4 separate regions of the Homo sapiens genome follow, and all the other regions are reported to be linked to region 1. Evidence: microRNA targets listed by miRTarBase, many of them from high-throughput screens and not tested one by one. Region 1 holds a microRNA gene; each other region holds the end of a gene's coding sequence.

What was found. Region 1 holds the annotated microRNA hsa-miR-3942-5p (AAGCAAUACUGUUACCUGAAAU, at 967-988, opposite strand). A microRNA usually pairs through its seed, bases 2 to 8, with sites in the 3' UTR of a target mRNA and lowers its output. Matches are read on the target gene's strand: a 7mer-m8 pairs with bases 2 to 8, a 7mer-A1 pairs with bases 2 to 7 and ends in A, and an 8mer does both.
Region 2: the mRNA of CYP26B1 is a reported target of hsa-miR-3942-5p. Seed matches in the 3' UTR shown: 7mer-m8 at 801-807.
Region 3: miRTarBase lists ATP6V1E1 as a target of hsa-miR-3942-5p. Seed matches in the 3' UTR shown: 7mer-m8 at 2,635-2,641.
Region 4: miRTarBase lists RPL7L1 as a target of hsa-miR-3942-5p. Seed matches in the 3' UTR shown: 7mer-m8 at 424-430, 7mer-m8 at 730-736 and 7mer-m8 at 854-860.

Annotation. Positions count from the first base shown.
Region 1 is chr15:35,371,355-35,374,438 of GRCh38, forward strand. It overlaps MIR3942 (microRNA 3942), which reads right to left and starts at 1,010; the gene lies at 902-1,010. DPH6 (diphthamine biosynthesis 6) reads right to left here. Exons shown (of 9, transcript NM_080650.4): 8 at 2,167-2,254; 9 at 1-849. The coding sequence ends at 796.
Region 2 is chr2:72,129,369-72,132,448 of GRCh38, reverse strand. It overlaps CYP26B1 (cytochrome P450 family 26 subfamily B member 1), which reads left to right. Exons shown (of 6, transcript NM_019885.4): 6 at 1-3,080. The coding sequence ends at 222. Among named protein-coding and RNA genes, the nearest start is that of CYP26B1, 17 kb to the left of the region's middle.
Region 3 is chr22:17,589,927-17,592,994 of GRCh38, forward strand. ATP6V1E1 (ATPase H+ transporting V1 subunit E1) reads right to left here. Exons shown (of 9, transcript NM_001696.4): 9 at 2,210-2,810. The coding sequence ends at 2,748. It overlaps SLC25A18 (solute carrier family 25 member 18), which reads left to right. Exons shown (of 11, transcript NM_031481.3): 11 at 169-1,069. The coding sequence ends at 310. Among named protein-coding and RNA genes, the nearest start is that of SLC25A18, 28 kb to the left of the region's middle.
Region 4 is chr6:42,886,284-42,889,367 of GRCh38, forward strand. It overlaps RPL7L1 (ribosomal protein L7 like 1), which reads left to right. Exons shown (of 6, transcript NM_001366481.3): 6 at 1-3,084. The coding sequence ends at 181. Among named protein-coding and RNA genes, the nearest start is that of PEX39, 3.0 kb to the right of the region's middle.

The DNA.
Region 1 (3,084 bases):
TGGGTGATAATAATGTGTCAATGTAGGTTCATCAGTTGTAACAAATGTACCACTCTATTATAAGACATTGACGGTAGGGGAGGCTGTGAATGTGTGGAGGTAGAGGGTATATGGGAAATCTCTGCATTTTCTGCTCCATTTTTGCTGTGAACCTAAAACTGTTCTAAAACATAAAGTCTATTTTTTGTAAAAGTTTTCTAAGGTCAACATAGTTAATACTGAAAAACAGCATTTTAAAAATCAGTTATAAAATAACTTGTAAGAGTTAAGGACATTCTTCCTAATTGTCCAATAACGTTGAAACACTTCAACCATGAATATATTTAAAATAAAAATGATAAATCGCTTTGGCGACACCCAGTAGAATAAGCTTGACTGGCTAAATAAAGTGACCATCTTTTCATCTTCATTTTCAAATGCCTCTGCATCATGACATTATTGGTAGGGATTGGAGCAAGAAAGAGAGAAGGAGGAAAAGAAACTAGTGTGATAAAAAAAGAAATGCTACAGAAATGGGGTTTATAGATGAAATAAAAGAAAAAAAAGGTCATAGGGAAGATGTGTTAACGAAAGAGAAAGAGTGAATTCCAAGAAAGTTGGCACTATTAATGAACATGCCGTCGACATTTTCCCAATTAATAAATGGTTCCACTAACCTCTTCTAGTGAAAGTATGTTTCTCTAAAAAAATAAGAGTCATGAGAAAAAAATAAACTAGTCATAGTAACTGAGAAAATACTATGCAATTTTTTTGTATAGAAATGGTGGTTTAATGAACAATGTTCCAAAACACTTTTCAAAAATTATATATATAATTAGATGTTCTGTAGTTGTCAGGCACTGAGGACACCTAAAAAAAAAAGGGAAGGAAAGGGAAGGAAAATGCACCATATTTATTCAGTGTCAGTGAATATGACACTTCAAAGATGTAATACTGTTATCTGAAATACTGTTATCTTCGCAGCCTATTTCAGGTAACAGTATTGCTTCTTTGAGGTGTCATACTGAAGACCAATCAAATACCAAAACAACGAGGTGAACAGTGAGCTATTCGGGTAGAGCTGAACATAGAATGGCTGGAATGCCTACACATGAATTCAGTGCTTTTGACTTTGTGTGTGCGTACATGGTAGCAAAAGTAGCAGAAAACTACAAGTTAGGGGTTCAAGTAAATCTGAAAAACATTTGGATAGTGTAACTTAATTCTTGTGGGGGTTACCAGCTTTTTGATAAAAGGTCACCAATAGTCATCATCCAGCCCAATTCCACAACCTATTTTTAATCCTGCCCATTGTCATTCTTCTGGAGAACTGGCACCTATAATTATCCTCACCTGTAGAAACCCTCTCATCTTGAGATTTTTGGCATTACCACTCTTTTCCTACTTTTGCCGAATTCTTGTTAATCCTCTTACTCCTTCAGATTTCCTATGATGTAAAATATGTAACTGTGGGTGTGCCTCAAGACTTGGGGGAAAGAACACTAAATATACAGAAGACATTTTCTAATCCTTTTCTGTCACTACACTCATTTCTTCACATAATTTCAGCTATCATTTTTATGGTAACTAATATAAAGCAACATCTGAAGGATGAGACCTCTCAATCAAGGAATCTAATCCAGAACTTTATTCCACAAGATATCTTTAAATTAAAATTTTACTGTATCTTGACAGTGTATTTAAAATAAAACTCTTTATTGTAATTTTGCTTCACTTTCCATCTTCCATTTTTACTTCTCTTTTCCTGGATATTTTTGTAAAGGTTTTATTTCTCCTTTTCCTCTCTTAAGCTTTGAATAATGACAATCCAATTTATCCTCAAACCCTTCCCTTAATGCTTATGTACAGTAACTTAAATGTGATCCTGCTAGATGATTTAATATTTGATTTTATATTGTCCTCCCATTGTTTAATGTATATACTATTCCCTTTTTAACTGACCTGCAAACTTTTCATAAATGTAGTATCTTTTGTATCATATATAACTCAAAACTATAAGCATTTGTAAAATTCTTAGTTATTGACTGAGGAGCTGAAAAAAAACCACTAATGATAAAAATCAATTTTCTTTTTCCTGTCATCTGTTGTTACAGAATTATATATGCAAAGCCAATGTATATATCTCAAATTTCTATTGAAATCACTGTGAATCTTAGATTTACTTGCCTTGTCCTCCAAGTGCAATTCTAAAAAGCGTAGATAAGCCACAGGTGCAAATGCATCAGCTGAATGTATGACTACTTCTGATGAATCCCTGAAATACAAAAATTTTACAATACATTTATATGCTACAAAAATTGTGACAAATCATTCCTCCTACTGACTAGAAGAGACTAAACATTCTTGTTTTATATTTATCTCCATTGGTATACAACATGTAGTGATTAATAAATATTTTTAATAACCCAGTATTTAATTGGGAAAAGGTTCAAGTATACTAAGCTTTTAAGAAAAAACAATGAGGCTTTCTATCTTCATAAGAACATAAGAGTTCAACTTTCAGGTTCACTCAAAGCTCTCTGAACAATTTTAAGACTTAAATTCCTGTTCAATTTCATTTTCACGTATTTGCTTGGTATAGGCTAAGCATTAAACATTAGTGCTTTATCTTCATTATTCTTTTCATTTTCAAGAGGTAATTCATTCAATGTTTCACACAAAATCTCAATTATCCTTCACAAAAGCAGTACTGGTGATGATTTTAAGCTCTAGATGAACTCTTCACACTGCAGTATCATTGCTATTAAAATTGATTGTCTGACATAGTAATGACCACATTCAGGTAAAATGGTATGAACTGCATGCTGGCACCATATGGATACATGTAAATTAACTCAACTTTTATCAAAGATACCCTGTAAAGCACATTTGAATAACTAAGATTATGTGTAAAGTTCTAATAATGAATTATTTTTTATTGTTTATTAAGAGAGTAATAATGTTTTGAATTTCAACTGAAAATTTAAAAATAGAAATTCCTCATATCACTTTAGTGCCTTGGGAAGTACTTCTATTGTTTATATTAATAGTTAGCATTTTGACCATTGTAGTACAGTAAAATAAATCCTGACATTGACATTTTGT
Region 2 (3,080 bases), not on the chromosome of region 1:
ACCTGCCTGGGCAAGCACCTGGCCAAGCTGTTCCTGAAGGTGCTGGCGGTGGAGCTGGCTAGCACCAGCCGCTTTGAGCTGGCCACACGGACCTTCCCCCGCATCACCTTGGTCCCCGTCCTGCACCCCGTGGATGGCCTCAGCGTCAAGTTCTTTGGCCTGGACTCCAACCAGAACGAGATCCTGCCGGAGACGGAGGCCATGCTGAGCGCCACAGTCTAACCCAAGACCCACCCGCCTCAGCCCAGCCCAGGCAGCGGGGTGGTGGTTGTGGGAGGTAGAAACCTGTGTGTGGGAGGGGGCCGGAACGGGGAGGGCGAGTGGCCCCCATACTTGCCCTCCCTTGCTCCCCCTCCCTGGCAAACCCTACCCAAAGCCAGTGGGCCCCATTCCTAGGGCTGGGCTCCCCTTCTGGCTCCAGCTTCCCTCCAGCCACTCCCCATTTACCATCAGCTCAGCCCCTGGGAAGGGCGTGGCAGGGGCTCTGCATGCCCGTGACAGTGTTAGGTGTCAGCGCGTGCTACAGTGTTTTTGTGATGTTCTGAACTGCTCCCTTCCCTCCGTTCCTTTCGGACCCTTTTAGCTGGGGTTGGGGGACGGGAAGAGCCGTGCCCCCTTGGGCGCACTCTTCAGCGTCTCCTCCTCCTGCGCCCCCACTGCGTCTGCCCAGGAACAGCATCCTGGGTAGCAGAACAGGAGTCAACCTTGGCGGGGCGGGGGCTGCGTCCAACCTGGAGATTGCCCTTCCCTATGCCACGGTTCCCACCCTCCCTCACCAGTTTGGACAATTTGAAATTACCTATTGCTGCTACTTGTTCTGTCCTCTGACCTTGGGGCAAAGGAGCCCCAGGCCCTGTCTCCCCAGCATCCTCCCTGGTGGCCCTGGGCAGGTGCACTGACACCCCCACCTTCCCATCCCCTGCTGAACCAGGCCCTGTTACACACAGCCGCCTAAGGCCCGCGGCTCATGTGCTGCCCGCCCCCATATTTATTCACTGATAGAGAATCTTGGGGATGCTGGGGTCTGGAGTGAACATCTCCTCCCCTTCATGCCCTAGCCTGTGTTCTAGCTGTCCTGGCGAGACTTCTGTGAGTGAAGAGGAAGGGGTCTCTGGTCAAACCCAGCCCCCAGGGCCTAGGGTTGAAAGCCTTCCCCGGCTCCGGGCATTATTTGGGTTTAATCTCGGAGCCTCACTCCTGGACTGAAGTCCGGTGCCTCTGCCTTATCCCTGGTGGAGATGGAATGTGGCCCATTGCCTCCTCCCTCTCCTGTCAAAAACCCTGATCAGGTAGATTTGGAGGCGGCCACGATTTCCTGTTTGGCCCCTGTTCACCCCAGTGCACTGGCCCTGACTCCAGGCGTGAGTATGGGGAAGGATACGGGTTCTTCTGACGGGGAGCAAGGGCCTCCGTCTTCCCTTCCTTAACTCTCCCCCTTTGCCCTCCGCCCTGAAAAAGGTGTCCTTGAAGTCCCTTCCACCTCTATGCCACTGTCTGCTTAGCCCAGCTCAGGGGTGGGGAAGAGGCGAAAGCGTGGGGGAGGTGAGCGCAGCGGCAGTTCTGCCTCGGAGCTGATTGCAGGGCCCTGTGTGGTCTCCGGACAGCTGCGGGAAGGCTGCCGCAGCTGAAGCTGAAGAGGCGGCTACGTGCGGTTTGTCAGGGGGATTGGGTTGAAAACTGGCCAGTCGGGATGACTGGGTGAAAGAGGAGTAGCTCCTGCCACTGGCGTTTTGAGTGTTGGCAATTTGGGATGCCTCCTGGGGAAGGTTTCCGGGCGTTTGGTGAGTCTCTAGATTTTTCCTTGCTTTCTGTGTTTATTGGTTTTTGATGTTGTAAAAGCAATGAATCCCCTTTACAAGAAAATCGAAAACACAGAAGAATGAAGGACATGCCAGTCCCCGATCGCTGCTGTGAGCACCTCAGTGGCTCCCTCAGACCAGATCCCGTAGGCAGCCCCACAGACCGACCCTGACCCCACTCACAGCCACCCTGAAGATAGACTATAGGAACGGGCCCATACCACACAGACTGCTCTCCAATCCCTGAGTCTCAGATGTTTCATTTATTTCCTACTTTTCCACTACTAAAAAACAGTGTGGAATAGACATTATTGGCAAAATTGCTCATCCCTAATCCTGAAAAACAGGCCAGAATGGGTAAAGACTTGTCAAAGCTTGCAACATAGCTACATGGTGCACCCGGACCTGTACCCCCTCCCCCCAACACAAAACCAGTGTCTGGGAGGTTCATTTTCCTTTAAACTGATCCAGCTGGCCCTGAACCAATTGTTTTTGACTGAGTATCTAGGAGAGCAGTAAGTGGAACTTCAGACAAGCCCACTGGGTCTGGTCCAGGTGAGGGGCAGGGGGCATGGGGCTGGGAGGTCTCAGGGGCCTTCCCTGGGGGTGGCCAGCCTGGTAGGGGGCAGAGAAGGAAAAGCTGAGGGGGGTCCCTGTGAGGGAGGAAAGAAGGATCATTTGCCCCGCTGGGTCTCAAAGGCAGTGAGAAGAGAGCTGAAGAAAGCTCTGGCTGGCTGACAGGATCCCTGTGTTGTAATTGGTCCCTCCTTTCAGCTCTCTAGTGAGATGCCCGTGTCTGTGCGTGTGCGTGTGTGTTTCATACAGCTAGCATTAGATGGGTGATGTTTCTTACTTATCATCCCTAACTATTGCAACTTGACCTTAAAAAGACAAAACCCCACAAAACTCTTCCTGCCACGGGCTTGCAGATTGAAGCACTTTCGATGTTGGGCGCTGGCGTTTGTGTTCTGGGCACCACCGTGACCCTGCCCAGATGGCTATAATATTATTTTATACACAAACCTTTTTTTTCATAAATGTTATAATTTTGTGTCTGTCTTTATAAACTATTATAAGTACTATTTTTGTTATAATTCAAAATAGATATTTAGTATAAAGTTTTTGCTGTTAAATATTTGTTATTTAGTAAAATATGAATTTTGCTCTATTGTAAACATGGTTCAAAATATTAATATGTTTTTATCACAGTCGTTTTAATATTGAAAAAGCACTTGTGTGTTTTGTTTTGATATGAAACTGGTACCGTGTGAGTGTTTTTGC
Region 3 (3,068 bases), not on the chromosome of region 1:
CTGCATGCACCTAGCGGGCGAGGCACAGCTCCCACACCGTTGGCCTCTTGCTCTTGTTGTGGAAGGCACTATTCTAAAATGAGAGGTGCACAAATGGAGAGGCTGCCACTGAGGGCTGCTTGCAGAATGCCCCTGCCCATCAGCTCACTGGCTCTTCTTTCTCCCCAGGAAACTCTGGATTCAGGAGGGACCATCTGCCTTCATGAAAGGCGCTGGCTGCCGGGCACTGGTCATAGCACCTCTCTTTGGGATTGCTCAAGGGGTCTATTTTATTGGGATTGGAGAGCGCATCTTAAAGTGTTTTGACTAGACAGAGCTGGAGGTCAAGTCCCTGCGCTTGCCGCCCTCTCTCTAGCTGTTTCACTTAGCCTAGAGGGGGCAAGGGCAGGTGGGGCCACTCTGGCCTGCCTGGTCCTCTGCGTTGTAGTGCTACCTCAATCTCGGGAGAAACAGCCCTATATTCTAACAAGTTGAGCACAGCCTTCTTCCCCTTCGTGTCTACACTCGTTTTCCTTTGTGGGCACAGCTACCAGGGGCTTTTGGAAGCCCCTAACCACCTACTTTTCAACAAAAATGGTACTTTCGTTGTATTAATTGCAGGACCTTAACAGGTAGTCACAATAGAAGGGTTGTTTCTGTATTTTAACATTTCTATTTCACAGTCAAACTCGGCATTCTTCAGTCAGCTTGAGGATTTAGCATTGTTAATCTTGGACTCCATAACTTATGAGTCCTAGCACTGATTTTGAGGAAAAGGAGGATCAGAAGTTCAAGGGACCGTGAAAGCCCTCAGAGTCAGCACCTAGTTTGAGACCAAGCACCCTTTCGAATCCCTGGATGGCTGAGGGGGCTGAGGCCGGCTCTGACTGGGCAGCTCAGCCCCTCCCCCAGAGCCCAGGGTCTTGCACACCCCTCCCTGTAACCAAGGAACACTCTGAAATAAAGGTGAATGGCTAAAATCTCATCTGTTCATCAGTGGGTACAGCAGATAGGCTGCAGTGAATGCTATCACCATCTACTTTTCTACGTCCATTTCAAAACCAAACATTAAAAAGGGCATAGAAGCAGACCCCCGTCACTCTTCAAACTGTTACTTGTGGGGGTGGAGGAACACAGCCATAGGGAAATATCTGCTTGTTAGTGACACTGGGTTTTAAGCCTTGATTCTATCCCTTCATAAGTGAATCGTCTTGAGGAGCTGAGTTTGCTGTGAGAGCCCTCCTCACGCACCTCGATTCCTCCCCCAAAGGCTGCTACAGGAGAGATAATGTCACAGCAGCAGGGCCAAGTCCTAAGAAAATCAGCACCTGCTGCAGGAGCTGGTGTTTACAATAGTCCCATCTACTGTGAAACCTGGGCTAACAAGGAAGAGGATGGTGCTAACATGGTCAGCCCTGGGGGCCTCACTCTCTGTTATGAGAACTGCATTTGAGTATGGGCCCTGGAGACAGACCTCAGTTCAAGTCCCAGCTCCACCATGTACTAGCTGCAAGGCCCTGGGCAGCTCTTAGTCGTCACCTACGGAAAAATAAAACATGGGACAGGGAAGGAAGAACAGGGCCTCTGTGAAAGGATCTGGTTCCAGCACACAGTGACCTGCTCCAAAATAACTCGGTTTTTTGGGTCTGGCGCCGTGGCTTACGCCTGTAATCCCAGCACTTTGGGAGGCCGAGGCAGGCGGATCCGAGGTCAGGAGATCGAGACCATCCTGGCTAACACGGTGAAACCCCGTCTCTACCAAAAAATACAAAAAATTAGCCAGGCGTGGTGGCGGGCGCCTGTAGTCCCGGCTACTCCGGAAGCTGAGGCAGGAGAATGGCACGAACCCGGGAGGCGGAGCTTGCAGTGAGCCGAGATGGCACCACTGCACCCCAGCCTGGGCAACAGAGCGAGACTCCGTCTCAAAAAAAAAAGAAAAAGAAAAAACAAACAACTTGGTTTTTCTCATTCGGGCAACACTAATAAAACTATTTCCTCAATAAAGTTGTGCACGTCACGCTGAAGAGCCATGTGGGGTGTGTGGAAGATTGCAAGGGTGGAAAGAATGCTCCTGGTGATGGGCTGGGAACAACGGGCAACAGCCCAGGGGACCCCCAGAGGGTTAACGGGTCCAGGTGCTGACAGCTGTCACCATCAAGTGCCACGGGGATTGGGAAAATACTTCTTTTCTAGGTGCCTCAGTAAGAATTTGACTCTGTCAAAACCTAAATTTGTAGTGCCTTACACTAGAAATCACATTAAATCCGCATAACTCTTTTAATAAATAAAGCATATTCATGGCTTAGATTTTAAATCACATTTACAGATGAGGGAAAACTTCTAGGCCTAAACAGGTAACAGTAAAGCGACTACTGCTGGAAGGAGTGGTGTGCCACATGCGCCTTAAGCCTCAAGAGTGGGGACTGCAGGGCCAAACACCAAATACATCACCTTTAGGCCAGACGGAGAGTGGAGACCCAGGAAGCCCATGCAACCACCATCTGCCCCCTCCCCTAGTGCTGCAGAACCGGCTGGACACTGTCACACTTTCAGAAGAACTGGAGGTGGGTCCTGATCATATTACATGAAGCTTTCCACCATTGTGAACAATTAGGCAAGGCATGAGTGACAGAGGGGCATCGCTGATAAATACAGAGCAATACTGGGGCAGTGAAGAGGAAGCTACAGAGACATTCGTGTTTCTTCAAATATCAGAAGCTTCCACATCACAGCAGGAGAGCTGACGACGAGCTCCACCTCCTGAAGGCTTAGTCCAAAAACTTCCTGTTGGCATTTGCACCAAACAAGGCTCCCCGGACTTCTGGCATCATCTGTGGAGAGAAAGTGTAATAAATACGCAATGTCAGCTGAAGAAGTTGTAGAGCGCTGCACATCTTTTTTTTTTTTTTTTTTTTGAGACGGAGTCTCGCTCTGTCGCCCAGGCTGGAGTGCAGTGGCGCATCTCCGCTCATTGCAAGCTCACGCCATTCTCCTGCCTCAGCCTCCCAAGTAGATGGGACTACAGGTGCTTGCCACCATGCCTGGCTAATTTTTTTGTATTTTTAGTAGAGACGGGGTTTCACCATGTT
Region 4 (3,084 bases), not on the chromosome of region 1:
CCTCATTCATGAAATTGCCTTCCCAGGGAAGCATTTCCAGGAGATCTCATGGTTCTTGTGCCCTTTCCACCTCTCAGTGGCCCGTCATGCTACCAAAAATAGAGTGGGCTTCCTCAAGGAGATGGGCACACCTGGCTATCGGGGTGAACGCATCAATCAGCTCATCCGTCAGCTGAACTAGACCCAGGTGAGGCAGGGCTGAAAACTGCCCTTGGGCTGACTTTTGATAGGCCATGCCTTGCCACTTTACAAGTTCTTTTTGCATTTACTAGTATTTAAGAGTAACCTTGAGATTGGGAGGAATAGAGGAGGCTGGTACAAATAGATGGAGACCTGCTGGGATCAGTGAATGCCTGATTAGGACATGGGGCTATGCATAGCCTAAGAGTTATAGGCTTAAAGATGTCGAGTAACTAAAAACTGTATTGCTGGCCGGGCGCGGTGGCTCACGCCTGTAATCCCAGCACTTTGGGAGGCCAAGGCGGGCAGACCATGAGGTCAGGAGATTGAGACCATCCTGGCCAACATGGTGAAACCCTGTCTCTACTAAAAATACAAAAATGAGCTGGGTGTGGTGGCGCGTGCCTGTAGTCCCAGCTACTCGAGAGGCTAAGGCAGGAAAATCGCTTGAACCCAGGAGGCAGAGATTGCAGTGAGCCAAGATTGCACCAGTGCACTCCAGCTGGGCGACAGAGCGAGACTCCATCTCGGAAAAAAAAAAAAAAAAACTATTGCTGCAGTCATTCAGATGGAAATGAGGAAAGAATAATATTAATAACTGATTTCAAAAAGGACTTGAAGATGTGAATCATCTATTTTGCTGAAGAAATCTTAACTCTTTGAAATTACTTTTTATTGCTGTTGTCATACTCTTAGGTGCCAAACTGCGGTAAATTTTTTATCAGTGAAGTGGAAGCATGTGTTTTGTTTTGGAAATTTTTATCAAGTATCTTCAGAGAAGATTATTTCCTGCTTTATCTTCAGAAACTGGAAAGGGTCAAAGAAAAGACAGTAGCTGGCCGGTCGTGGTGGCTCATGCCTGTAATCCCAACACTTAGGGAGGCTGAGGTGGGCAGATCACCTGAGGTTGGGAGTTCGAGACCAGCCTGACCAACATGGAGAAATGCCATCTCTACTAAAAATACAAAAATTAGCCGGGCATGGTGGCACGTGCCTGTAATCCCAGCTACTCAGGAGGCTGAGGCAGGAGAATCGCTTGAACCTGGGAGGTGGAAGTTGCAGTGAGCTGAGATCACGCCATTGCACTCCAGCCTGGGCAACAAGCGAAACTCTGTCTCAAAAAAAAAGAAAAGACAGTAGCATATGTTCATGTCAAGCACCTCTCATCACAGTCGAGTTCCAAGGAAAAATTCCAGTGTTTTCTGCATTGGGTGCTGTGTCATCTGAAATCGGCACATTCCATGGAGGAAGGAGTCCTGCTTTGTTGCATGTATCCTAGGGTTTAATGTTGGTAAATGAGTCACTCTAGCATTTGTAGAAGGCTCCCTGAGACTCCTGCAGCAGTCGACCAAGCCCAAGGACATAATTGAATCTGGAGAGTCCTGGGGCCTTGTTTTGAAAAAGACTTGAAATACACATAGGAAGAAAGGCATAAAAATAAATGTTCACTTGTCTCTGCTGTGAGTATGTGTTCCAACTTTTCAGTGATGGCTTTGAGAATTCTCAAACTTGACTGGCTCTAAGTGTATCTGGTGGCTTTTGTATCGTAACCTGAAACTGGCTTAGTACTTTTTCCTAAAAGCTCAGGATTTGAGAATGAGGACCCCTTCGCCAGGAAAACATGTATACACTCAAAATTTTGCTTGCAGTTCTAGGGTGTTTAGACCCTTCTCAGATACCTGTGCATCTTATGGGTTTTGTTTTTCTCTTTGAGACAGTCTCACCCTGTTGCCCAGGCTGGAGCGCAGTGGCATGATCTCAGCTCATTGCAGCCTCCACCTCCTGGGTTCAAGTGATTCTGCCTCAGCCCCTTGATCAGCTGGGATTACATGCATGTACCACCACACCCAGCTAATTCTTGTATTTTTAGTAGAGATGGAGACAGAGTTTCACCATGTAGGCCAGGCTAGTCTCAAACTCCTGACCTCAAGTGATCCACAAGCCTGGGCCTCCCAAAGTGCTGGGATTACAGGCATGAGCAACTGCGCCCAGCTCTTGTGTACCTTATGTGAGGAAGTCCTGCTCAATCAGGATCGGTCACGCAGGCCCTGATCTTGCTACTCTGGTTCCATGTCCTATGGAAGACCAAAGTTTACCAAGATAGATTTTTCCCTTCATAGTGGCAGATAGTGTTAACCCCTGCACCATCTGTAACTCAGAAATCCCCACCATTTCTTCCCCTGGGCTTCAGAATAGAATTGCCTGGTTTCTCTGATGATCAGCATGGTTCCTTAAAACCCAAATCAGCAAGGAATGAACAATTTTGTTTGGCATGGATGAAATTAGCACTGTTTGGCTCGTTAGGCCCCAGGCAGGCAGGCACCTTAATTTTTTCCTTGCATATTCTAGTCTTCAGAAGCATTGCCTTTTGTCCTACTGGTAGTGACATAGACCAATAACAGGGCATCTGGGGATTTTAATCCTGAAAACAGTGAGTCTGATACTGCTTGTGTTTTTCATCAGTGTCCACCCCAAGTGGGTCTTCCTGCTATTCTCTTCACTTAGTTGCCCCTCACTTGCCATCTGAGCAATTGGCAAGGATGTGCCAGGCCTAGGTTAAACTTGGAAACATGCTTGACCATTCTATTCCCTGGTCCTTTAAGATCAGTTTGGCTGCAATTTTGGCTCCTTGGACCCTCAAGCATAGCTGGTAAATCAAGTTAGAGATGTAACTGCCTTAAAACATGCCAGCTTAGGCTGGGCACGGTGGCTCACACCTGTAATCTCAACACTTCAGGAGGCTGAGGCAGGCAGATCACTTGAGGTCAGGAGTTCGAGACCAGCCTGACCAACATGGAGAAATTCTGTCCCTACTGAAAATACAAAATTAGCCGGATGTGGTGGTGCATGCCTGTAATCCCAGCTACTTGGGAGGCTGAGGCAAGAGAATTGCTTGAACCCAGG